Homo sapiens: one gene and its partners. The protein of the gene in region 6 purifies or fractionates together with the protein of the main gene of each other region. This does not show direct contact. Each region holds a gene or a part of one and is shown on either strand. Other genes may lie near its edges. The genes, in order: STRN3, FKBP10, ATP6V1A, OCLN, ATP8A1, SLC2A4 and WDR73.

Region 1 (3,500 bases), on a different chromosome or scaffold from region 6:
CTCCCACTTTCCATGAATGGTTCTTATCATCTCCACAATTCTCACAGCTCCCAACCTCTCTTCCTCATGAATGACTATGCCTCATATTTCACTGAGAAAATATAGCATTCAAATAATGCTGCATGTTTCTTATCCCCCATCTTCTTGCTGCGTAATATATAAATGATTAGTGTCTAAAGGTATCTTCTCCTAGCTTCCAGATACAAGCAAGGAATCTGTCCTCCATCCTATCAAAGGCTAATACCAGATGTCACTAACTTGCTGTAATGTTTACTGCTTCTCTACTACACAAATTCTCCTCCTTGGAATCATTACCATAGTGAAAAAAAACTTGTTCCAGAATCTCTTCAACAAAAAATCTTCATTAATCCTATCCTACCACCCCTTCCACCCAGCAATAGAAATATGCTTTTCACTTCCTGTTTACTCTTCAAATCACTCCAATTTGGTTTCTGATACCACTACCACACCAAAACAATCCTTGCTAATGATGATCCCTACACTATCAAATTTAATACTTTTCTTTGATGATACAAAACATTTTGTTGTTGTTCCCATTATATTGCTTTTCATCCATATAGTCTGACATGAAAGATTATCCAGAGGTCCCTTCATTCTTCAGTCTTAGCTGCAGCGTCCAAACTCTGTCTGGCCAAGACCTGGGTGACCTGCTAGTCACTTATAAAAAGGAAACTTTATATCATATTATTGGACCTCTCAGCAACATTCGAAAGTGCAGACTGCTTCTTTCTTCTCAAAATTGTTTCTTCTTTAGTGTGCGCTTCCATGATTTCGCACCCTCTCCTGCACTTCCTTCTGTCTCTTGGGTCACACCTCCTCAGTTTCCTTTCTTGGCTCTCTTGCTCTAGCCACTCTTCCAGTGTCAGAGTTACTGAGGACTTTAGTCCCAGGTTGTCTTCTCTTCTTACACCAAACAATACACTCCCCCAGTATTGCCCATTCTTATAGTTTAATGTATTATTTGTATAGAGAAGACTGTCCATGTTTTTAACTTCAATCGAGATCTCTTTGGGCTCCTTATTTGTATATTACCTACTTGATATTTGTCATCCTTTAACATGCCTAAAATCTGAACTCACCATCTTAAATCTCCTCACACCTGTTCTGTCCTCGTTTCAATAAATGCTCCCATCACATGCTCAGTTACTCACATCAAACAGGACTGAATGTTCTGAATGTTTGAAATGTTCTGAAATTAGTGATGATGGCTGTAAAACTTTGTGAATGTTCTGAAATTAGTGATGATGGCTGTACAACTTTGTGAACATAGTAAAAACTACTGAACTGTAGACTTTAATTTTTTTTTAGAGATGGGGTCTTGTGGCTGCACATAGTGGCTCATGCCTGTGATCCCAATACTTTGGGAGGCTGAGGCAGGCAGATCACTTGAGCCCAGGAGTTTAAGACCACCCCGGGCAACATGGCCACCATTTCTACAAAAAATACAAAAATTAGTGCGGTGTGGTGGCTCACACCTGTGGTCCCAGCTCCTCAGCCTGGGAGGCGGAGGTTGCAGTAAGCCAAGATCACGCCACTGCCCTCCAGCCTAGGAGACAGAGCAAGACTGTTTCCAAAAAAGAAAGAGAGAGAGAGAGAGAGATTGGGTCTCACTCTCTTCCCAGGCTGGAGTACACTGGCACCATCATAGCTCACTACAGCCTTTACTTCTCACACTCAAGTGATCCTCCCAGCTCAGCCTCCCGAGTGTCTGGGACTATAGGCATGTGACACCCCATCTGGCAAATCTTTAAATTTTTGGCAGACATGAGGTCTCACTGTGTTGCCCAGGCTGGTCTTGAACTCCTGGCCTCAAGTGATCCACCCACTTCGGCCTCCCAAAGTGGTGGGATTACAGGCATGGACCATTGTGTCCAGCCTGAACTGTATACTTTAAAAGGGTGAATTTTGTGATATGTAAATTATCTCAGTAAAGCAGTTAAACACATACAAATTAAGAGTCACTCACCCATCACTTTATCTACTCAACATAATTTATCAATAAATCCTGTCTATTCTACCACACTCCCTCAGCGTATCTTAAAACCACTTCTAAATGCTGTGCTACCACCACTCTAATCTTGGCAATGTCGTTTGTCACCTAGTTTACTGGACTACTTTATGACAGCAGCCTCCTAACTGGTATTTCTCTTTCCACTCTTCTCGCCCCCAATTTATTCTTCTCACAACAGACACAGTCACCTTTTTAAAACCTTACATTTATCAGATAACTTTCTGGCTTAAAACTCTTTACTGAAAGTTTCCTCTTATCCTTCAGATTTTGGCTTGAATGTCACTATTTTAGAAAGACCTTTCTTGACTAACTCTTCTAGAGAAGGTTCTGCCTGTTACGCCCTCTCAACAGTACTCTATCTTCTTATCATTTATCACAATTTGTAACCATAGATCCCATCCCTTCGCTTATCTGTTTTATGTCTCTACTTTCCATTAGTCTAAATCTTATTTCTTGACATAGTGCTTACCACAATGCCTAGCTAATGTAGGCACAATGTGTGTGTTAAATAAAAAGAACAAAGAGTTCATAAACATTTTGTTTTAACGTTTTATAATTATTAACAGTGCCCTTACAAATATATTTGAACACAGGTACAGGTAGGTGTTTCTGTAGAACAGATTTCTAAAAGCTACATTTGCAAGTCAAAGGAGGTTTCCTTTCTTTTTTTTTTTCTTCCATTTTGAAATTAAGAATGTTTTTGTAGATATGAGCTAAGAATAACAAAAAAAATTTTTGGCTCCAAAAAGTTTTAATGATTTATACCCCTGATGTTGGTTCCATTGTCTTTTGCTTAATATTTTTAAAATATATAAACTATTTCTTAAGTTCAAAATTTTGTTACTTAGATTACATTTTGTTTCCTCCTTCTTTTTGTAACTACTACCTAAATTAACATTTTAATTAATATAGTTTTTTAAACAACAGAGAAAGTATCAATTCATAGGCTTAAATACCCATGGCATGACATTTCCTAATTTTTCTCTTTAATAAAGCAATTTATTAGCAAATGGAAGAACTAAATGAGGTGACTAATATAGGTTTAAATAACCTTGTAATCATATTTGAGGTATTTACTTTTGTCAGCTCCATTCACTTAAAAAAAATACATTTTGATCATTTTACTTACCATATGTATCATATGGATCTACACTGGGACTCGGCATATTCCACCACTGGATGGTTGCATCAATACCACCACTAAAACACTGTTCTCCATTAGAACTAATAGCTAATGACAGAACAGGGCCGCTATTGTAGGAAGAGAGGAAAAACAAATTACTGATAAATTCTAAGAAGAAACTCAAATCTCCATTCCCCCAACCTCTGAATTTATGTAATATCTAAAAACTGTTTTAAGAGAACATGTACACCTGACTGGTACTTTTTTTTTTTTTTTTTTTTTGGAGACAGGGTCTCACTCTGTCACCAGCCCAGACTGGAATGCAGTGGTGATCTCTGCTCAGTA
Region 2 (3,500 bases), about 35 Mb from region 6:
AAGGGAGTCAAAGGGGCCCTCCCCTTCCAGGCAGCTCAGAGTGACCCCCAGCTTCGTCCACGTTTCACCCAGCCCCCGCCCTCCCACCTCAAGACCCTCCTGACCTGGAATCGAAGAGGGTGCCGTCCATCAAGGAGCCATTGTAGTGGTAGCGCATGAAGTCCCCGGCCCCGGCTCTGCGGACACAGCCGGGGGGGAGCTCCAGCGTCTCTAGCTGGACAGCGTCCTTCGGGTTGTGCACGTCAATCAGGAGGACGTGAAAGACCAGCGAGGCCTGTGGGGGGATCACTGTCCCTGGGGAAGGGATAGGGCTTGAACCATAAAATTGGGGAGCAAGCCGAGGCTCCTTCTTGACTCAGGAAGGCCCAGTGGGCACCATGCAAGACACTAGCCCCACTCTCCAGAGCCCTTTCCCGCCCATCAGCAGCCCTGCTTCTTGCTCCTCCAGTAAGACCTGAGCTGGGTTTTCCCCAGGGCCACCACCGGCTCATACTGAGCCTTCGTGTGAATCAGAATAAAGCACCCCTTCTTTTTTTTTTTTTTTTTTTGAGACAGAGTCTCGCTCTGTCACCCAGGCTGGAGTGCAGTGGCGCGATCTCGGCTCACTGCAAGCTCCGCCTCCCGGGTTCACGTCATTTTCCTGCCTCAGCCTCTCCGAGTAGCTGGGACTACAGGCGCCCCCACCACGCCCGGCTAATTTTTTTGTATTTTTAGTAGAGACGGGGTTTCACCGTGGTCTCGATCTCCTGACCTCGTGATCCTCCCGCCTTGGCTTCCCAAAGTGCTGGGATTACAAGCGTGAGCCACCACGCCCGGCCAAAGCACCCCTTCTTAGTAGCACCAAGGGTAGATTTCATCCCACCTTGAGTCCTTGGTTGGATGCCCTCGTGCAGTATACAACCTGAGCAACTGTATGTGGAGGCCTGGTTTTTCCCTCTTCTGCGGAATTTCCCCTTGTGTCCTTGCCCACCCTCACCATAGCCTTTCTCGCCATAGGCCAGGAATGGAGGGATGATAATCTTCCTTCTCTCTCCAGGACACATGCCCAGCAGCCCCTGGTCCATGCCCTTGATCAGCCAACCAGAGCCGACGTAGGTGTCATAAGTGCCGCCCTTACTGTAGCTGCAGAAAATGAGGTGGAGGTGGGAGAGGCAGGCTGGGCCCCGGATTCCCGCTCCCCATGCCACAGTCCCCAGTGCCTCAGGGCTCCCCTCCAGCCCCTCACCTGGTGTCGAAGGAGGTGCCGTCCAGCAGGGTGCCATTGTAGTGGTAGCGGACAAAGTCGCCGTCCTGGACCATGCGGGGGCAGTGGGGCGGGCGCAGCAATGTGCTCACCTGCACGGTGTCTTCCTTGTTCCACACATCCAGCAGAACCACATCGAAGTAGAGGGTGGCATCCGGTGGAATGAGCCCCGCTGTGAGAGCGCAGCAGCGTGGAGGTCTCAGAGTTCTGCTCTGCCAACCACGATCCCAGCCAGGGCCCTGTTATTCCCCTTCCTCTCATCCCAGCACCAAGAGACCCAAACCAGGGACAGAGATGCCACTATTTTTGTTTTTTTTTTTTAAGAGATAGGGGGCCAGACACAGTGGCTCATGCCTGTTATCCCAGCACTGTGGGAGGCCAAGGCAGGTGGATGGCTTGAGCCCAGGAGTTCAAGACCAGCCTGCGCAACATGGCGAAACCCCATCTCTACTAAAAATACAAAAAATTAGCCACGTGTGGTGGTGTGCACCTGTAGTCCCAGCTATTTGGGAGGCTGAGAGGGAGGACTGCTTGAGCCCAGGAGGCTGAGGTTGCAGTGAGCCGAGATCGCACCACTAAACTCCAGCCTGTGCAACAGAGTGAGATGCTGTCTCAAAAAAAAAAAGAAAAAGAAAAAAAGAGGGGTTTTGCTCTGTCACACAGGGTGGAATTCAGTGGCATGATCATGGCTCACTGCAGCCTCCCGGGGTCAAGCAATCCTCCCACCTGAGCCTTCTGAGTAGTTGGGACTACAGGCACACACCACCACACCTGGATAATTTATTTTATTTTTTGTAGAGACGAGGTCTCACTATGTTGCCTAGGCTGGTCTGGAACTCCTGGGTTCAAGCAATCCTCCCACCTCGGCCTCCCAAAACTCTGGGACCATATATGTCAGCTACTGCCCCAGCCAGAGCTGCCACTCTTCATACTGCGTGCACAGTGTGACATTGGGCAAGTCACTCCTCATCTCCGCACTTCAGTTTTCTCACCCCAGGATCCCTGATTCTGCCTCGTGGTCTCCTCCACCCCCGGCCTGTGCCCCAGCCCTTCTCACCCAGGCCGATGCTCCCATAGCCCAGGTGGGGAGGCACAATGAGGCGTCGCCGCTCGTTGACACACATGCCCATGAGGCCTCGGTCCATGCCAGTGATGAGGCGCCCCACACCCACCACGATGGCCACCAAGGTGTTGCGATCATAGCTGGGGGGGGAGGGACAGATGGGATACAGTGACCTCAGACACACACACACTGCCCATGGTGGCACAGATGCACAGGTGTGCCTGCACACACGCACACAATCCCCCCTCCCTATAGCCAGGTGTGGATACGCACACACACTTCTCACCTCCTTTTCAAGTCCCCCTCCTAGGTCGGCCGTGACGCCCACCTTAAGAGAACGGACTGTTGTGAAAGGCAAGTCCCTGAGGAGGACAAGGGCTGCTATTGCCCTGGGACGGGGTTGGGTGGGATGCCCGGGCCTGATGGCTGCTACTATTTGCTGACAGCAAGTGGGGAGTGGTACGTACAGCACGGAGGGGCAGAGGAGCATTACTATATGGGATTAAATGCTTGGCATTTTACATTCCGTATCTTCTTTGTCTCCCCTGTGAGGTGGGCATTCTTGTTCTCATTTTTCTTAATGAGAGCAATGGAGACTTGAGAGACTCAGTGCCTTGCCCAAGGTCACACAGCTAATATGTAGTCAGCTGAGTTCTAAAATTTGCCATTATACTATTGGCTCTCCAAGAAAAGACGGGAGAGCAGAGGTGGGGTGGGAGCTGGTTTCACATTTTGAAAAGGCCTATTCTACAATCCTGGCTAACACAGTGAAACCCCGTCTTTACTAAAAATACAAAACATTAGCCAGGTGTGGTGGCGGGCGCCTGTAGTCCCAGTTACTCAGGAGGCTGAGGCAGGAGAATGGCGTGAACCCGGGAGGCGGAGGTTGCAATGAGCCGAAATCGTGCCACTGGACTCCAGCCTGGCGACAGAGTGAGACTCCCTCTCAAAAAAAAAAAAAAAAAAAAAAGCCTATTCTAAAAGTGCCATGGCTTTTGTTTGTTTTTAGTTATACACTTTTAATTAATGTATTTATTTTTACTTATACATATGTATTTTTGGAGATGGAGTCTCGGCTCTGTCACCCAGGCTGGAGTGCAGTGGTGCAATCAGCTCACTGCAACCTCCACCTCCCGGGTTTAAGCGATTCTCCTGCCTCAGCCTCCGAAGTAGCAGCTGGGATCACAGGCATGC
Region 3 (3,261 bases), on a different chromosome or scaffold from region 6:
ATAATTTTCATTACGTATGTTAAGTTACTTTTTTTTTTTTGGAGGCAGAGTCTTGCTCTGTCACCCAGGCTGGAGTGCAGTGGCACGATCTTGGCTCACTGCAACCTCCACCTCCTGGCTTCAAGTGATTCTCCTGCCTCAGCCTCCCAAGTAGTTGGGATTACAGGCGCCCACCATCACGCCCAGCTAATTTTTTTTTTCATATTTTTAGTAGAGACAGGTTTCACCATGTTGGCCAGGCTGGTCTTGAACTCCTGATCTCAAGTGATCCACTTGCCTCGGCCTCCCAAAGTGCTGGGATTACAGGCGTGAGCCACTGCACCTGGCCCAGGTTACTCGTATTTTATATATTTTGAGTACTAGGTTTAGTGAGGGACACTGGTAAACCACAGGCAGGAGGTAAAACTATACTCATTTTCCCTTTTTCTTAAGGATACAAATCCAACCAAACAGAAAGAAAACAAAATTTTAATTTTGCATTTTGCCTGATAACCACATTCAGTGACCAAAGCCTTTATCCTCAACAATGTGCACAATAGTGGGAAATTATGCCGCTTCATATATTAGATGAACATGACTTAATGCATGATAATTAGGAATTAATTTAATCAAAACAGAATTTGCTCAACATCTGGTATTATCACACTGGGATGGAAAAGTAAAATTTAGGCAACTTACTGAGTAATATGTATAAAAGATAATTTAGCTAGGCTTGGTGGCTCACGCCTGTAATCCCAGCACTTTGGGGGGCCGAGGCAGGCGAGTCACAAGGTCGGGAGATTGAGACCATCCTGGCCAACATGGTGAAACCCTGTCTCTACTAAAAATACAAAAAAATTAGCTGGGCATGGTGGCGTGCACCTGTAGTCCCAGCTACTTGGGAGGCTGAGGCAGGAGACTCGCTTGAACCCAGGAGGCGGAGGTTGCAGTGAGCTGAGATCGCGTCACTGCACTCCAGCCTAGTGACAGAGTGACACTCTGTCTCAGAAAAAAAAAAAAAAAAAAAAAGAGACAGACTTTAAAATGTTCCAGGTCTCTAACCCAATCATTCCACTTCTGGGACTCCATACTAAGAAAATGCACAAAACCAACTACACACAACTACATGGTTGTCCACACCAATAACTGGAAATTTTCTTTTCTTTTCTTTGTTTTTTTTTTTTTTCAGACAGAGTTTTGCTCTTGTTGTCCAGGCTGGAGTGCAATGGTGTGATCTCAGCTCACCGCAACCTCCACCTCCCGGGCTTAAGTGATTCTCCTGCCTCAGCCTCCTGAGTAGCTGGGATTACAGGCATGCACCATCACGCCCAGCTAATTCTGTATTTTTAGTAGAGACGGGGTTTCTCCATGTTGGTCAGGCTGGTCTAGAACTGACCTCAGGTGATCCACCCGCCTCGGCCTGCCAAAGTGCTGGGATTACAGACGTGAGCCAATGCGCCCGGCCAACAACTGGAAATTTTCTAAGTGTCTAAGAATAGAAAAATATTACTCTCCAGCCACAAAACAATGCTACAGAAGAGTAATGACATTAAAAAATACCTGTGATGTTAATTTGACACAATAAGCATGTAAATAGAAATCATCATTACTACAGGTATATTTCTTCTTCATCCTCTTTCTATGAATATATAGTTTTTTAAGACAATATTTGGATCAAGTTACATATGGAAGTTTTTTCACTCTGTGCCATAAGCATTTCTCCATGTCTTTGAATATTTTTGACAAAAATGGTAATGCCTTCATAATATCTATCTTATGGACACACCATAATGTACTGTTGGCTCTGTTCATTCTTGGGTGACATTTAAGAAATTTGGTTTAGCGTAGTGGCTCATGTCTGTAATCCCAGCGCTTTGGGAGGCTGAGGCAGGCAGATCACCTGAGGTCAGGAGTTCAAGACCAGCCTGGCCAACATAGAGAAACCCCCGTCTCTACTAAAAATACAAAAATTAGCTGGGTGTGGTGAATGCACCTGTAATCCCAGCTACTTGGGAGGCTGAGGCAGGAAGAACTGCTTGAACCTGGGAGGGGGAGGTTGCAGTGGGCCAGGATCGTGCCACTGTACTCCAGCCTGGACAACAGAGCAAGACTCCATCTCAAAAAAAAAAAAAGAAAAAAAAAGAAAAAGAATTTAATAAACGACCGTGTATATCCGTATCAAAATTCTGATTACTTCCTTTGTTTATTTATCTCAAGGTGAAATGACAAGACTAAAAAGGTGTAAATGTTTTTAAACTCTCAATGTAGTGCTTACCTATTTGTACAGGTTTACTTTCAATCTATAGTGTGAACACACACACAAAATATATATATAATTTAAAAATTTTTATATTACATATACACTCAGAGAATCATTCTCAGTAGGTGGTTAGTAAATATGCCTGGATGTCATGACAGAAATAAATACAATTCAACTGATCAAATATTTTAAAAACAATCTTATACATTTGAGTTCCTACTAATAATTTCATTTAATTATCTATTTTTATCTTGTGTACTTCCAAAAGAACAAGAGGCCACTTAAAAGTTAAAAAATGGCTGGATGCGGTGGCTCACGCCTGTAATCCCAGCACTTCGGGAGGCCGAGGCGGGTAGATCACATGAGGTCAGGAGTTCAAGACCAGCCTGGACAACATGGTGAAACCCCGTCTCTACTAAAAATACAAAAAATTAGCTGGGCGTGGTGGCAGGCACCTGTAATCCCAGCTACTTGGGAGGCTGAGGCAGGAGAATCGCTTGAACCCAGGAGGTGGAGGTTGCAGTGAGCCGAGATTGTGCCACTGTACTCCACCCTGGATGACAGAGCAAGACTGTCTCAAAAAAAAAAAAAGTTAAAAAATGACCTGCAGTACATGATATTTAAAAGAAGTAAACAGAGAAGATGTCATTTCAGAAGAACACATGTGCTAGAGGTTAATAGGCACTTGGAGTAAGGCAACTGTTGCTCAGCTATGAAGTAAGCTCTAATTTGCCTGGCAACTAAGACAAAAGGGAATACACATCAGCATTTATTTTAGACGTGACATACTAATTTTTTTTGTTTTTTGAGACTGGGTCTCACTGTGTTGCCCAGGCTGGAGAGTAGTGGTGGGATCATGGCACACTGCAGCAGCCTTGACCTCAGCCTCCCAGATAGCTGAGACTACAGGTGTGTGCCCCACACCTGGCTAATCTTTTGTATTTTTTGTAGAGACGGGATTTCGACATGTTGCCCAGGCTGGTCTTGAACTCCTGGGCTCAAGTCATCCTCCTGCCTGAGCC
Region 4 (3,500 bases), on a different chromosome or scaffold from region 6:
GTCACATTGTGAAAATTCACCATGTTATACACTTTGATTTATACACTTTTCTGTATGTATACTTCAACTTTTAAAAAATATATAAAATAAAAAATGAAAAACATGTAATAGAAAAGCTCTTCCTCCAGATGAGTAGGTATGGGAATTAAAATAAAAAGAAGAAGAAAGAAAGTTCTTCCTAAAAGAACAATCTCGGATACTTACTCCCTTCACTTGCTTCAGTCTATTGTATTCATCAGCAGCAGCCTATTAACGACAGACACAAAGGAATATGTTTACTGGGGCATTTTCTCTTTTAAAAGTAACATTCCTGATGTTATACTTTGGAGCTAAAAATGACAGCTTATGACAAAAATATAAGCAATTAAAAGAATGAAGTCGTAAAGCTCTTAAAACTCATGATCAGCAGGAAGGTCTGAAGGAATTCAGTGAAGAGACATTTATGATACTGTATCTTTCACATTTCACTCACATAGGCAGGTAACTATCTGTTCTGCTACTTCTCATCTCTCCTCATGCCAGTCCCCATGCTACATTGACACCAGGAAGATCTTTTATAACACAGAGCGCTCGCTGATCAGGTAATATCCCACTACACAACTGGTCTGAGCTTCCCATTAACTTCTCCCCTCATCCAGTTTCCTACCTTTCCAGTCTCAGTACCCATCATCAGCAACTCCTTTAAAAACTGAGACATGTTAAATGCTTCAGGATTTCAATCATGTTTTCCTTATGGCTGTAATCATGCACCTCCCCGCACCCTTCTGTCTGGAAAGCTCTTAACGATTCCCTCACTGTGAAGCCTCCAAAGACTTTATTTCTTCTATGAGCAGTTAGTTATAGTGCTTTCTACACATGATGCAAATACAGCATTAATCATACTGTCTAAATTGTTTAGATGTCAGGTTTTTTTTCTTAAAATATAAGCTCTTTTAGGGTGGGGACAAGATTTTATGTCTCTAGCTCCAGCATTTCCACATCATCAAAGAAAAATAAGTGATCAATAAATGTTCACTAAATTAAGAAAGATCTATAACACCCTATAGAAACCATAAAAGAAATACATAAATCTAACTATATAAAGATGTGAATACGTCAAAACTAAAAAGTAGATCACCTCAACTGAAAAATGGCAGAATATTTAATGAGATGTGCATCAAATGAGTCCTGTATTGTATCAAGAGGGAGACACAGTTGGTGCAGTCTCTCTGGAGGGCAATTTTGCAACTTTGCAAAGGTACGTACCCTCTGACTCTCAGCAATTTCACATTCTGGAATTAGTTTTAGTTAGATAAGCAGGCTGGGCACTGTGGCTCACACACGTAATTCCAGCACTTTGGGAGGCCAAGGCAGGCAGATCACCTGAGGTCAGGAGTTCGAGGCTAGCCTGACCAACATGGCAAAACCCCGTCTCTACTAAAAATACAAAAATTAGTCAGGTGTGGTGCCACATGCCTGTAATCCCAGCTACTCGGGAGGCTGAGGCGGGAGAATCACTTGAACCTAGGAGGCGAAGGTTGCAGTGAGCCAAGATAGCGCCACTGCACTCCAGCCTGGGCGACAGAGCAAGACTCCGTCTCAAAAAAAAAAAAAAAAAAAAATTAGATAAGTAGACAAGAGTGCAAAAACAGAGAGGTTCACCAGTATATACTGGTACTACTGGAGTAGGGGGAGACATACTTAAATGTCTATCCATAGAAAATGACTCTTAAATTATGATACAACCATAAATTTGAAAGTTGTTTACCTAATTTTACACATAAAAAACTTAAAAGTAAGTAGGTCTTTATTATTGATATAAAAAAAAAAACTTGCTGTTAAGAAAAGCCAGAAATAAGCAGTGCAAGGAAGTTTTTTTGTTTGTTTTTTTTTTAAAGATAAAACCCCACAATAAGAGTATGTCAAAGGGACACGGGAAGCAACTGAAAGTTCCCAACCGTCAAAGCGAGAACAATTAGAGCTACAAAATAAAGCAGCCTTGGATTATAATTCACAGTATAAAACAGGTATCTGTAAAGTCCATACTTACGTAAGTGATTGACTGATCAATAAAGGAACAAATAAACAAGAAGAGATTAATCTCCCTCTAAAAGGTGGTGTAACTACATTAATTTCAGTATGTATACAAAATACAGTATGAAAAGGATGGATTGAAAAAAAAATCCAGTAACTTTACATGGACAAATTCTATCTCAGCCAGGTGATCAAGGGAGGGAAAAAAAAAACCCATAAACTGTTGATTTAAAAGACAGGAAGAAAATAAGTGAAACATGGAAGATGATGTTTCCTTAAAGAAAGGTGTATGTGCCTTGGTGACTCCTGCTTGGAGAGATTGTTTTAACTAATATTTTGGTGATAAGGATTTCTTGATGGTAGGATTTAAGATGATTTCTTTTTCTGTATACAGTTCTGTGTTACTTAAGTTCTTTTTTTTTTTTTTTTTTTTTTTGAGATGGAGTCTCACTCTGTCACTCAGGCTGGAGTGCAGTGGCGCGATCTTGGCTCACTGCAAGCTCCGCCTCCTGGGTTCACACCATTCTCCTGCCTCAGCCTCCCAAGTAGCTGAGACTACAAGTACCCGCCACCATACCTGGCTAATTTTTTGTATTTTTTTTTTTTTTTTAGTAGAGACGGGGTTTCACTGTGTTAGCCAGGATGGTCTCGATCTCCTGACCTCATGATCCGCCCACCTCGGCCTCCCAAAGTGCTGGGATTACAGGCATTAGCCACCGTGCCCGGCCGCTTAAGTTCTTTTCTACAGAAAGAATGAATGGCTTTATAAATAGGAAAGATAATAAGGCTATTTTATTATTATTATTATTAATTTTTGAGATGGAGTCTCACTCTGTCGCCCAGGCTGGAGTGCAATGGCGCAATCTTGGCTCACTGCAACCTCCCCCATCCCAGGTTCAAGCAATTCTCCTGTCTCAGCCTCCCCGAGTAGCTGGGATTACAGGTGTCTGCCACCATGCCCTGCTATTTTTTGTATTTTTAGTAGAGATGGGGTTTCACCATGTTAGGCACGCTATTCTCTAACTCCTGACCTCAGGTGATCCACTTGCCTTGGCCTCCCAAAGTGTGGGGATTATAGCCATGAGCCACCATGCCCAGCCTGGCTATTTTATTTTAAATAGGAAAGGATAGATGTACATAGAATAGTGCTTTGTAGGGGCTGGGCGCGGTGGCTCACGCCTGTAATCCCAGCACTTTGGGAGGCTAAGACGGGCAGATCACGAGGTCAGGAGATCGAGACCATCCTGGCTAACATGGTGAAACCCCGTCTCTACTAAAAAAAAAAAATACAAAAAATTAGCCGGGCGTGGTGGCAGGCACCTGTAATCCCAGCTACTTGGGAGGCTGAGTCAGGAGAATGGCGTGAACCCGGGAGGCAGAGCTTGCAGTGAGCTGAGATCACGCCACTGCACTCCAGCCTGGGCAACAGAACGAGACTCCACCTCAAAAAAAAAAAAAAAACAGAATAGTGCTTTGTAATTATTAAC
Region 5 (3,500 bases), on a different chromosome or scaffold from region 6:
TACAAAAGAAAGAGGTTTAATGGACTTACAGTTCCACATGGCTGGGGATGCCTCACAATCATGATGGAAGGCAAGGAGGAACAAGTCACGTCTTACATGGGTGGCAGCAGGCAAAGCAAGAGAACTTGTGCAGGGGAACTCCCCTTTTCAAAACCATCAAATCTCTTGAGACTTATTCACTATCACAAGAACAGCATTGGAAAGACTTGGCCCCATGACTCAATTACCTCCCACCAGTCCCTCCCACAACACATGGGAATTCAAGATGAGATTTGGCTGGGGACACAGCCAAACCATATCACTTGCCAACAGAAATACAATGCAAGCCACATTAGCAAAAAGCAAAAAAAAAAAAAAGAAAGAAAAAATTGATCTCAGTATATTTTATCTAGCTCAATGTATTCAAAAGATTATCATTGTCACCTGTAATCACTGTCAAAAATTATTAATGAGACATTTTACATCCTTCATCCTAAGTTTTCAAAATCTGGAGTATATTTTACATTTATACCACGTCTCAATTTGGACTAATCACATTTAAGTGTTCAAGAGCACGTGTGGCCAGTCTCTACCATGCTGGGCAGCACAGCAGTGGTAGATAAATAAGTGAACTGAATGGTTAATCAAGGCATGATAAATATGTTATTTGCCTTTTTTTAAAAAGTTGCCTTCTTATTGTCAGAAGCTATATGTGTAGTAATTCTAGGTGTTATCAGTTTCATGTCCCTGTTGGAGCTCTGCAGATCATGACAATGGCCTTCCCATTGTTAAGAAAACCTCATTCTCCCACTCCTGTCAAGGACCCACCATGGTCTCATAAATCTGCTGAGGGTTCCCTTACAGATAGATGTTTGTTTCTGCCACTTTACCATTTAATCTGTTGACTGTTTCTACACGTCTGTCAAAAAAGATACAGCCAGGCTGGGTGCGTTGGCTCACGCCTGTAATCCCAGCACTTTGGGAGGCTGAGGCGGGCAGATCACAAGGTCGGGAGTTCGAGACCAACCTGGCCAACATGGTGAAACCCCGTCCCTACTAAAAATACAAAAAATTAGCTGGGCATGGTGGCAGTTGCCTGTAATCCCAGCTACTTAGGAGGCTGAGGCAGGAGACTCATTTGAACCAGGGAGGCAGAGGTTGCAGTGAGCCAAGACTGTGCCACTGCACTCCAGCCTGGGCAACAAAGCAAGACTCCATCTCAGAAAAAAAAAAAAAAAAAAAAAAAAGATCCATCCATTTGCTATATGGAAATCATATTCTATCCTTTACTCTGAGAAGTAACAGTATAAACAAAGTCAGTACGTTGACACTTTCGTTGGGGGCTGGTGTATATTTGCTTCACCTGTTCTTTGTGCCTCTGTCAGAATGCTTATCTCCTTGTTAAATGTTGACTGAGCATAGTTCTTATTATGAGTCAGGCTAGTAAAATTGAAACTTAGTTTTGAAGTGTACAGGCAGTTTGGTGTAATGGTCACTAAAAAGGTTACAACCTATTAGATAAAATAACCTAATACAGGCCAGGCGCAGTGGCTCACGCCTGTAATCCTAGCACTTTGGGAGGCCGAGGGGGGTGGATCACGAGGACAGGAGATCGAGACCATCCTGGCTAACATGGTGAAACTCTGTCTCTACTAAAAATACAAAAAATTAGCCAGGCGTGGTGGCAGGCGCCTGTAGTCCCAGCTACTTGGGAGGCTGAGGCAGGAGAATGGCGTGAACCCGGGAGGTGGAGCTTGCAGTGAGCAGAGACCACGCGCCATTGCACTCCAGCCTGGGTGACAGAGCGAGACTCTGTCTCAAAAAAATAAATAAATAAAAATTAAAAAAATAACCTAATATGTGGAAATATAAACAAGATACGTAAATGAACTTACTCGTTCATTACTGCTAGATTTGGTCTGGAATAGTGTGTGTTTTGAAGCAAAATGCACTTCTAAAATAGTTTATAAGATTCAAAAAAATATTCTTTGTTGTTTATATAAATGTGTAGTTCTTTTCTAAAGTAATTATTTTTCTATTCTCAATCCCTTCTATATATCTAGCTTTTCTATTTATATGTTCTTCTCATTCCAGAACACTGACATTCAAGCAAATAACAATTTATACAGTTTATTTACATAGATTTATCAAGATACCAGGAATTTAAAGCCACTGCCAGCAATAAATCTGCTTATAAAAAGTTAATTTTATAAAATAAGAATGTCCAACTTGTCGCTTTTTAAATCTAAATTGACAGCAATAAAGTAGACAAAATTTATGTACTAATGAGAAAATAAAAACATTAAAATCAAATGAAAACAATCTTCATGCCCTGTCCTGTTTCAAACCCAGAATTATGTGATTTGTGGTTGATTAACCCTAAACTTCACTTGCCTTTGATTTTAAAACCTGTTCATGAGATATTTGACACTGATCAAATTCTTTACACAGTGAAAAGGAAGTGAGTTCTAAACTTTACTGGAAATCTCATTTTTATTTTTCTCAAGAGTTTGTGGAAATGTATTTTGAATATGATTCAACTGTCTTGGTAATGACCTTTTAAATCAATTCCCAGATACCCAACTTTTGCCAGCTAAAACAAGTTCTGCAGATGTTAATGGCTCATGTCAATACTGTGAATGAATAGACAGAAAACACATCATTGAATGTCTCTAGTGAGGACAACTGCCAGTCTCGAATCTCTCCTTTCAGTTTTTTGTGCTGATCAGGCGTGGGAGCAGAGGACTCATTGACTGTTTGTAAGCTGCTGTTTAATATGCAGAAATGCTCCATCAGGAAAATGAATGTGAAGCTTTAGCTGCCACGCCTCTACTGGGAGGTGGAATTTAGAAAATAATGCCAGGAGAAGCAGGTCTGAAATTTCTATGCTAATAAAGGAATAGTCTTGAACACTATGTGTTTTATAGATTTAAAACTACAAACACTGCTTTTCTCCTTGCTATATTGCTTAGGAAAGTCACTATCTAGATATTCCATTGCTGTAAATTACAGCCAGACGAATACAGATTTGGCAGATGGTGGTATAAAGCTCTTTCTTACAGGAGCTGCCCAGGAGCAGCTCTAGGTGTTCATTTAAATTATTGGCTCCTTTTAAAGAGAGATTTTTTTTTATTTCTCTGATATGTCTGACTCCTTCCTCATAAAATAAGACCTTTCCTTTCAAATGATTGGTCACATCCAAGTTTTCTGGGAAGATCTCAAAACCAAGTTGTGTTTCTAATTTCCAGAAGCTTTGATAAAAGTCAATAAGGTGATACTGTCCCAGCAAGTGGTGCTGGGAGTTGAATTCCCTGTGAATTTAAATAAACTAGACACCTCCCCAGAGGGACCGGTGTTTTCTTTCTGAATCTGTGGCTCTGGTTGAATTAGAGGAGGTACTTTTATGTGTTTGGGATAATTTAGATGTTGTTTTATTTTGCACGGGATATGTTCCCAATATTAACTACAATCTCAGCCTAACTTGAAATCGGCCTGCTGGTAGGCTACTTCACTGTTAAAGA
Region 6 (4,046 bases):
AAACATCGGCCCAGCCTGTCAGGCGCTTCAGACCTGGAGAAGGGAAGGTCAGGCCTGAGGGGACCTGAGAGGAAGCCAGGTGCTAGCAAGATGAGGCGGAGGCATGGGCCTGGGCCAGGCTGCAGCGGGAGAGCTTACTCTTTCTGGCAGGCCCCTCGAGATTCTGGATGATGTAGAGGTAGCGGGGGCTCTCGGGACAGAAGGGCAGCAGGACCAGCTGCAGGAGGGCAGGTAGCACTGTGAGGCCCAGGAGCAGTGGCCACAGGCTGGCAGTGCCCAGGAGGGACTCCAAGCCCAGCACCTGTGGGAGAAGGTTGGGAAAGAAGGCAGGTCACTCAGCCCTTCTGCCTTACCTTGGAAGCCCACCATATTCTCCAGAGCCCCACTCTAACCACTGCCCAGGCACCCATGAGGCTTGCTCCGGTCACCTGGGCGATCAGAATGCCGATAACAATGGCCAGTTGGTTGAGCGTCCCCAGGGCGCCCCGCAGGTGAGTGGGAGCAATCTCCCCCACGTACATGGGCACCAGCCCTGATGTCAGCCCTGGGCGAGGGAAGAAGAGAGGGCTGAGGGCAGGTGTCCATTCCCATCTGAAAGCCCAGGCATGGTGAAAGAGAACAGGGCGCTAGGCAGGGCTGTGGTGCCCGTGAGTACCTGAGTAGGCGCCAATGAGGAATCGTCCAAGGATGAGCATTTCATAGGAGGCAGCAGCATTGGCCAGGCCCATGAGGCTGCCCCCCAGCACCGCCAGGACATTGTTGACCAGCATGGCCCTTTTCCTGGCAGGCAGACAGAGTGAGGCTGTGAGGGTGAGGGCACCCAGCAGTGGCTCCCTTCCTGTTTCCCCCACCCCTGCCCTCCAGCTGCGAACCTTCCAAGCCACTGAGAGATGATACCAATGAGGAAGGAGGAAATCATGCCGCCCACGGAAAAGATGGCCACGGAGAGGGCCCAGAGGGTGGTGAGGGTGCCTGGAGGGATGGAGCTGGGTCCCTCAGGCCCCTGCCTCCCCAGCCACGTCTCATTGTAGCTCTGTTCAATCACCTGGGGGACAGCAGAGGACAGATTTCCTGCAGACCGTCCCCTTTCCACCACCCCCGAGACACCTGTCCTCCTCGTTTGGGTACCCCCACCCTGCCAGCTGCAGGCCCTCACCTTCTGAGGGGCATTGATGACCCCAATGTTGTACCCAAACTGCAGGGAGCCAAGCACCGCAGAGAACACAGCAAGGACCAGGGTCCCAGTCACTCGCTGCTGAGGGGGTTCCCCATCCTGAACAGGCAGACACAAAGACACAGCATGTCACATGGAACCATGATTTTTTTCCTTCCGCTAGGGGCCCGGGCCCAGCTGGAGCCTGAAGATACTGGGCTCCACCCAACATGTTGGGTGAGGGAAACTGGGCCATATTAGGAATTGCACAAAGATCTCAATGTAAACAGGAGCTGAACTGCAACCTGGGCATAAAGGAGAAACTGGATGTTTGGGTCCATAAGGCAGAGAAATGTTTGAGAACTTGTCTCAAAATTCTTCTGTGACCTTGAGACAGGCTTGGCCTTAAGAGCTCAGATTTGTGTGACCTTGGCCAAGTCACTTCCCTGCCCCGAACCTGAGTGTCCTCTGTGAGATGGGGGTGATGTTGCCTGCCTTGCCTACCTATCTGTGAGAGTGTTGTGAAAATCAACATCACATGTTAACAATATCCTTGACAGTGCTGGTTTCATAAATTAACACGTGCATTATTATCATCAGCCACTGTCCTCTTCCCTCCCCTCTGGGGGTTCTGTCAGCCAGCTCCAGGAGGCCCCCAACAGGACCAAGAAGTGCTGTTCCAGAAAGGACATCCCGGTCATCTAGGGGTGGCCTTCTCTATCTACGTCGTGGCCTGCCCTCCCCCTCTAACCTCCGTGCAGGGAGGGCCGTCCAGGGGTTCTGCCTGGGAGAGCCATGCCCAGGGGAGGAGGGCAGGAAGGTAGTGTGAGGGGCGGTGGCAGTGGTGGCCGCTCGCTGGCGGCACAGACTGTCTCCAAGCGGAAACCTGAGCTGGAGGAGGGGGGGCTGACAGTCCCCTCTGCCCCTCCACCAACCATGGGGCCAAGGGAAAGTTCAGCGTCCTGGAGGGCGGCCAGGAGTGGGGGTGGGGGCCCACGGAGAGCCTCCGGTCCTCGAAACACTGCCCGTGAGCGAAGACGGACGGACAGCTCCCGGAGGGCAAGACCCGCCTGGATCTGCTTTCCCGAGTCGGATCGAGGGCAGGGTGTCCCCGATTCCGGAGCGCCGCGCCGCCTACTAGGCAAGGGGGTGAACCCTGGCTCGCAGAATCCACTTGCTGCCTGTGCCCCGAAAGGCCCTCCAGACCCACTCTGCCTTTTGGTAGGATTGGAATCTCACAGTCACGGGTTGTCCAGGCCGGGTATAAATAGCCAGCCCCCTACCTTCACCCCCTGCGCCTGCGCAGGAACCACCCCCAGCTGACCCCAACCGCGACCCCAGCCCAAGAAAAGCGGGACCCGTGCCCCCCCGCCCCGCCCCCTCATGATGAATCCTACTTCGGAGCCTATCTGTTGGAAGCCCGACGGCATCTCGTCTTAGAAGAGCTGGACGCGCAGGGGCGGCGAAGATGAAAGAACCGATCCTGGAGTCTCTGACTCCGGCCTGGAGCGCAGAACCTGCGGAGGCCGCGGGGGTCCCGGAGTGACGTGCGAGGGCGGGCCCGATGGGACCCACAGCCACAAGCCAAGGACCCGGAGAGCAGTGGGGCTCCCGCGGATCTGGTGGAGCGGGGCTGGGGGAAAAGACGCGAGAAGCCCCCGCCACCTCGCTCCTGCCCCCGCGGGCCACGCCCTTCACAGCACCCATTGGCCAGGAGCCCGCACACCCCAGAAGGCCACGCCCCCTCCGCCTGGGGTTTAGAGTTTGGCTGGAGTTGGTGGGGCGGGCCAATGAGGCCACGCCCCTCCGCGTGGCTGGCGAGACACGCCTCTCGGGTTCCCGCCAGCCTCCGACTGGGAAGTTTTGAGAAAAGAGTCCCTGGAACAAAAGGCCCCGCCCACCCACGTGTTAGGACTCCGCCCACCAGCTAGGATCCCGGGCTGCAGAAGCATCTTAAACTCTGCGGGTCTGGACAGTGGGGTCTGAGAGGAGAGGACGGGCCAGGTGTACTTGCCCCGGGGAAACTCCAGCGGCCTGAGACGGCTCGCGAGCCGGCGCGCGGGTTGGGAGAGGAGCAATGCCCCAAAGTAACCCGGGGCTGCTATTTTTAGCTCCCACGTTGGGAGCCTCCAAATGTCAGGTCCCGGGCGTCCCGGCCTGTCCCAGGCGGGGGCGGAGAGACAGGGAGATGACGCCTTAAAGAGTCCGCGACATGCTTCCCACGCGAGTGTGGCCCTGGGGGCCAGGAAATTCCGTTCCCACAACGGGTCTGGTGGCCGGGCTGCTTGGTCCTGTCTTTCAGCGCCTCCCTGCTCCGGGCACTGTCTATCCCGCCCTTCCCCTACACACATTCCCCAGGTTGGTTCCTGGAGCCGGTCCGAGGGACAAGTGGTCACAACCGACCACACCACCAGCCCTGAGGTCTCTGAGCCTCTGAGGTCTCTGAGCATATGCTGGCCGCGTGAACGACACGCTCTCTGGAGGCTGCTCCGGGTTTGGATCCTCGGCCAAATTCTGCCAGGCAGAAAGTGCGCGACCTAGGGTCGGCGTGTGGGGAGAGAGAAGCCGAAATACCCAGAGCGTGGAGAGTGTCTGGCTCAGAAAACGGGCTTCGGAAGCGCAGGGTTGTGCTGCCACCTGGAGGGCGAGCGAGGAGCCGCAGTGGATTGCACTTGGAATCTCAACCCACTATTTCTCGCCTTTCCGCCACCATAGGGCTTCAGTGACATCTGACCCAGGCCCTTCTCTGGAGCTGCAGATCCAGGTGTTCGTTACCGCCCGGATGTGGCAGCTCTAGTGATCAGCATGTCCAAACCTGCTCCTCCTCCTAACTTCCTTATTTCAATGAATTACCCGCCCAGTCACCCCTATGGTAGAAGTCAGGCTCGATTCC
Region 7 (2,749 bases), on a different chromosome or scaffold from region 6:
ATGGAGTCTCACCCTGTCACCCAGGCTGGAATGCAGTGGCACAATCTCGGTTCACTGCAGCCTCTACCTCTCAGGTTCAAGCAATTCTCCTGCCTCACCCTCCTGAGTAGTGGGGATTACAGGTGTGCCACCACCATGCCCGTCTCTAATTTTTATATTTTTAGTAGAGACGGGGTTTCACCATGTTGGCCAGGCTGGTCTTGAACTCCTGACCTCAAGTGATCCACCCACCTTGGCCCCCCACAAAGTGCTGGGATTACAGGCGTGAGCCACTGTGCCTGGTCTATCTTTAAATTCCTATCTGAATTTGTTTAGGTTTTTTAAATAAAAATCTTTCTTTTTTTTTAGAGACAGGGGTTCACCATGGTGCCCAGGCTGATCTCGAACTCCTCCTGGACTCAAGCTATCCTCCCACCTCAGCCTCCCAAAGTACTGGGATTACAGACATGAGCCACATGCTTGACCTGAATTTTAACTGCAGTTAATTATCACTTAACCAGCGAATTCACACAGGAGAAATCCCCTGGCCGGGCGCGGTGGCTCACACCTGTAATCCCAGCTCTTCGGGAGGCCGAGGTGGGTAGATCACAAGGTCAAGAGATCAAGACCATTCTGGCCAACATGGTGAAACTCCGTCTGTACCAAAAATACAAAAATTACCTGGGCATGGTGGTACGTGCCTGTAATCCCAGCTACTTGGCAGGCTGAGGCAGGAGCATTGCTTGAACCCATGAGGTGGAGGTTGCAGTGAGCCGAGATCACGCCACTGCACTCAAGCCTGGGTGACAGAGCAAGACTCCATCTCTACTACAAAAAAAAAAAAAAAAAAAATTCAACCACCTTAGGAAGCCTCTCATTTATGTATTTCTAGCATGTAATTAGTGTTGCACATGGGAAGGGCTAATAGATGCTGACAGAGTGAACAACTTATCTATTTTGTGTGTGTGTGTGTAACAGGGTCTCATTCTGTTGCCCAGGCTGGAATACAGTGGCATGATCACAGCTCACTGCAAACTTCAACTGCCAGGCTCAGGCAACCCTCCCACCTCAGCCTCTTGAATAGCTGGGACTGCAGGCTCATACCACCACAACCAGCTAACTTGTATTTTTAGTAGAGACAAGGTTTCGCCATGTTGCTCAGGCTAGTCTCGAACTCCTGGACTCAAGTGATCCACCTGTCTTGGCTGCCTACATTGCTGGGATTACAGGCATGAGCCACCATGCCCAGCCAAATTTTTTTTTTTTTTTAAGGGAAGGGATCTTGCTATGTTGCCCAGGCTGGTCTCAAACTCCTCAGCTCAAGCAATCTGCCCACCTCAGCCTCTGAAAGTGCTGGGATTACAGGCATGAGCCACCATGTCCAGCACACTTTAATATTCACTATGGGCCCTCAAAAGGAAATGTTTGTGGGGCCACCAAAAGCAAATGTCTCTTGAACCTAGTCACCTGGGGGGACAAGTGTGGGAAAGTGCACCTGTGTTCCCATGAGACCCACTCAAGAGGAGCAGAAATCCTGTTTTGCTATTTCCTTAATTGCTACTAGGGCTGGGATTTTTTCATGTTTATTGGCCCCTCTACATTTTTTTCTTTAAAAAAATTCACAAAGCATGTTTATATTTGTTAGCTCTTTTGATTCTCCCTATGATAGTGTGAAGACAGGGACAAAACGCTACCATTTCACACTCCCAGATCTAACAATAGCTACCAAGTAATTATGCCATGCGTTTCTTCTAACCTTCGCAATATCACTACGAGGTAGTTCTTACTATCCTCATTTTACAGATAAGGAAACTGAGGCTAAGTGACGCTGGCAGACTTGCCCAAGGCCACACAGCTGGTAACAGGGACTGGTAGTCACTTGAGTCCTACATGAGCACCCTTGCTACTACAGCAGCTCCTCCCCTTTCTAGAGGCCTAGATGGAAAGATGCTGGTGTCAGCGGGGGGCACAAAGGTCCACCCAGTCCCACACATGCAGAGAGGCATCATTTGTTGCTGATAACAAAGTCCTTGGTCTGCAGGGATGCCAGGTGTGGGTGGTGACCAAAGGAGCAGGGTCCATCCCATTTCCATCTAGGAAGATGTGACCTCTGTGAGTGAAGAGAGGTTCTACTTGGCTCCGTGTTCCATCTTGGCTCCGTGTTCCATCCCAAGATGTGGCATCATAGACCTGGACTGTACCATCAAAACCTGAGAATACAGAAAAGAGAGGCTTGACAATGAGTCCCTAATTTTATTTTAAAATAATTTTCTTTCTATTTTTAATAGAGATGGGGTTTCACCATGTTGACCAGGATGGTCTTGAACTCCTAGCCTCAAGCGATCCTCCCATCTCAGCCTCCCAAAATGCTGGGATTACAGGCACCCAGCCCCTAAAATACTTTTTATAATTTGTTCTATGGTACCAAAACAGGCTATTGGATGAGGAATCAAGGCACTTAAAAGGCTAACCACGGGCAAGTAGCATCTGCCCTCAGTGTTGGCAGCTGATGACTCCGTGGGGCATGTAACCATGAGCATCCGTTGTGCACCTGTTATGCGTGAGGCTCGAAGGCTAATTCTGGACAAGTATTAGCTCTTTTAATCCTCAGAACTGTATGACACAGATACTGTTATTTTACCCAGGAAACTGAGGCTTAAGAGACTTCTTCAAACCTTTTCAAGTTGCCCCAGAGTCCAGTCCCCTACCTCTGGGTCCCTTTCAGCAGATGGCCTTGTCTCCTACTCGATGGGGGAAACAGAAGCCTTTG

What was found.
Region 1: the proteins of SLC2A4 (region 6) and STRN3 purify together in Homo sapiens (affinity purification with mass spectrometry, with the first as the bait; one study listed by BioGRID). This does not show direct contact.
Region 2: the proteins of SLC2A4 (region 6) and FKBP10 purify together in Homo sapiens (affinity purification with mass spectrometry, with the first as the bait; one study listed by BioGRID). This does not show direct contact.
Region 3: the proteins of SLC2A4 (region 6) and ATP6V1A purify together in Homo sapiens (affinity purification with mass spectrometry; one large-scale study listed by BioGRID and IntAct). This does not show direct contact.
Region 4: the proteins of SLC2A4 (region 6) and OCLN purify together in Homo sapiens (affinity purification with mass spectrometry; one large-scale study listed by BioGRID and IntAct). This does not show direct contact.
Region 5: the proteins of SLC2A4 (region 6) and ATP8A1 purify together in Homo sapiens (affinity purification with mass spectrometry; one large-scale study listed by BioGRID and IntAct). This does not show direct contact.
Region 7: the proteins of SLC2A4 (region 6) and WDR73 purify together in Homo sapiens (affinity purification with mass spectrometry, with the first as the bait; one large-scale study listed by BioGRID). This does not show direct contact.

The regions. Positions count from the first base shown.
Region 1 is NC_000014.9:30,907,880-30,911,379, forward strand, and holds part of STRN3 (striatin-3), read right to left. Parts: intron 3,284-3,500; coding exon 3,162-3,283; intron 1-3,161. UniProt on the Homo sapiens protein: Calmodulin-binding scaffolding protein which is the center of the striatin-interacting phosphatase and kinase (STRIPAK) complexes.
Region 2 is NC_000017.11:41,816,004-41,819,503, reverse strand, and holds part of FKBP10 (peptidyl-prolyl cis-trans isomerase FKBP10 precursor), read right to left. Parts: intron 2,447-3,500; coding exon 2,301-2,446; intron 1,416-2,300; coding exon 1,226-1,415; intron 1,123-1,225; coding exon 977-1,122; intron 295-976; coding exon 105-294; intron 1-104. UniProt on the Homo sapiens protein: PPIases accelerate the folding of proteins during protein synthesis.
Region 3 is NC_000003.12:113,806,035-113,809,295, reverse strand, and holds part of ATP6V1A (V-type proton ATPase catalytic subunit A), read right to left. Parts: intron 1-3,261. UniProt on the Homo sapiens protein: Catalytic subunit of the V1 complex of vacuolar(H+)-ATPase (V-ATPase), a multisubunit enzyme composed of a peripheral complex (V1) that hydrolyzes ATP and a membrane integral complex (V0) that translocates protons.
Region 4 is NC_000005.10:69,548,290-69,551,789, reverse strand, and holds part of OCLN (occludin), read right to left. Parts: intron 247-3,500; coding exon 205-246; intron 1-204. UniProt on the Homo sapiens protein: May play a role in the formation and regulation of the tight junction (TJ) paracellular permeability barrier.
Region 5 is NC_000004.12:42,458,106-42,461,605, reverse strand, and holds part of ATP8A1 (phospholipid-transporting ATPase IA), read left to right. Parts: intron 1-3,500. UniProt on the Homo sapiens protein: Catalytic component of a P4-ATPase flippase complex which catalyzes the hydrolysis of ATP coupled to the transport of aminophospholipids from the outer to the inner leaflet of various membranes and ensures the maintenance of asymmetric distribution of phospholipids.
Region 6 is NC_000017.11:7,280,472-7,284,517, reverse strand, and holds the start of SLC2A4 (solute carrier family 2, facilitated glucose transporter member 4), read right to left. Parts: upstream 2,801-4,046; 5' UTR 2,584-2,800; coding exon 2,551-2,583; intron 1,274-2,550; coding exon 1,157-1,273; intron 1,046-1,156; coding exon 873-1,045; intron 781-872; coding exon 656-780; intron 545-655; coding exon 429-544; intron 302-428; coding exon 139-301; intron 34-138; coding exon 1-33. UniProt on the Homo sapiens protein: Insulin-regulated facilitative glucose transporter, which plays a key role in removal of glucose from circulation.
Region 7 is NC_000015.10:84,641,535-84,644,283, forward strand, and holds part of WDR73 (integrator complex assembly factor WDR73), read right to left. Parts: intron 2,190-2,749; coding exon 1,936-2,189; 3' UTR 1-1,935. UniProt on the Homo sapiens protein: Component of a multiprotein complex required for the assembly of the RNA endonuclease module of the integrator complex. Associates with INTS9 and INTS11 in the cytoplasm, stabilizing the INTS9-INTS11 heterodimer and blocking the active site of INTS11.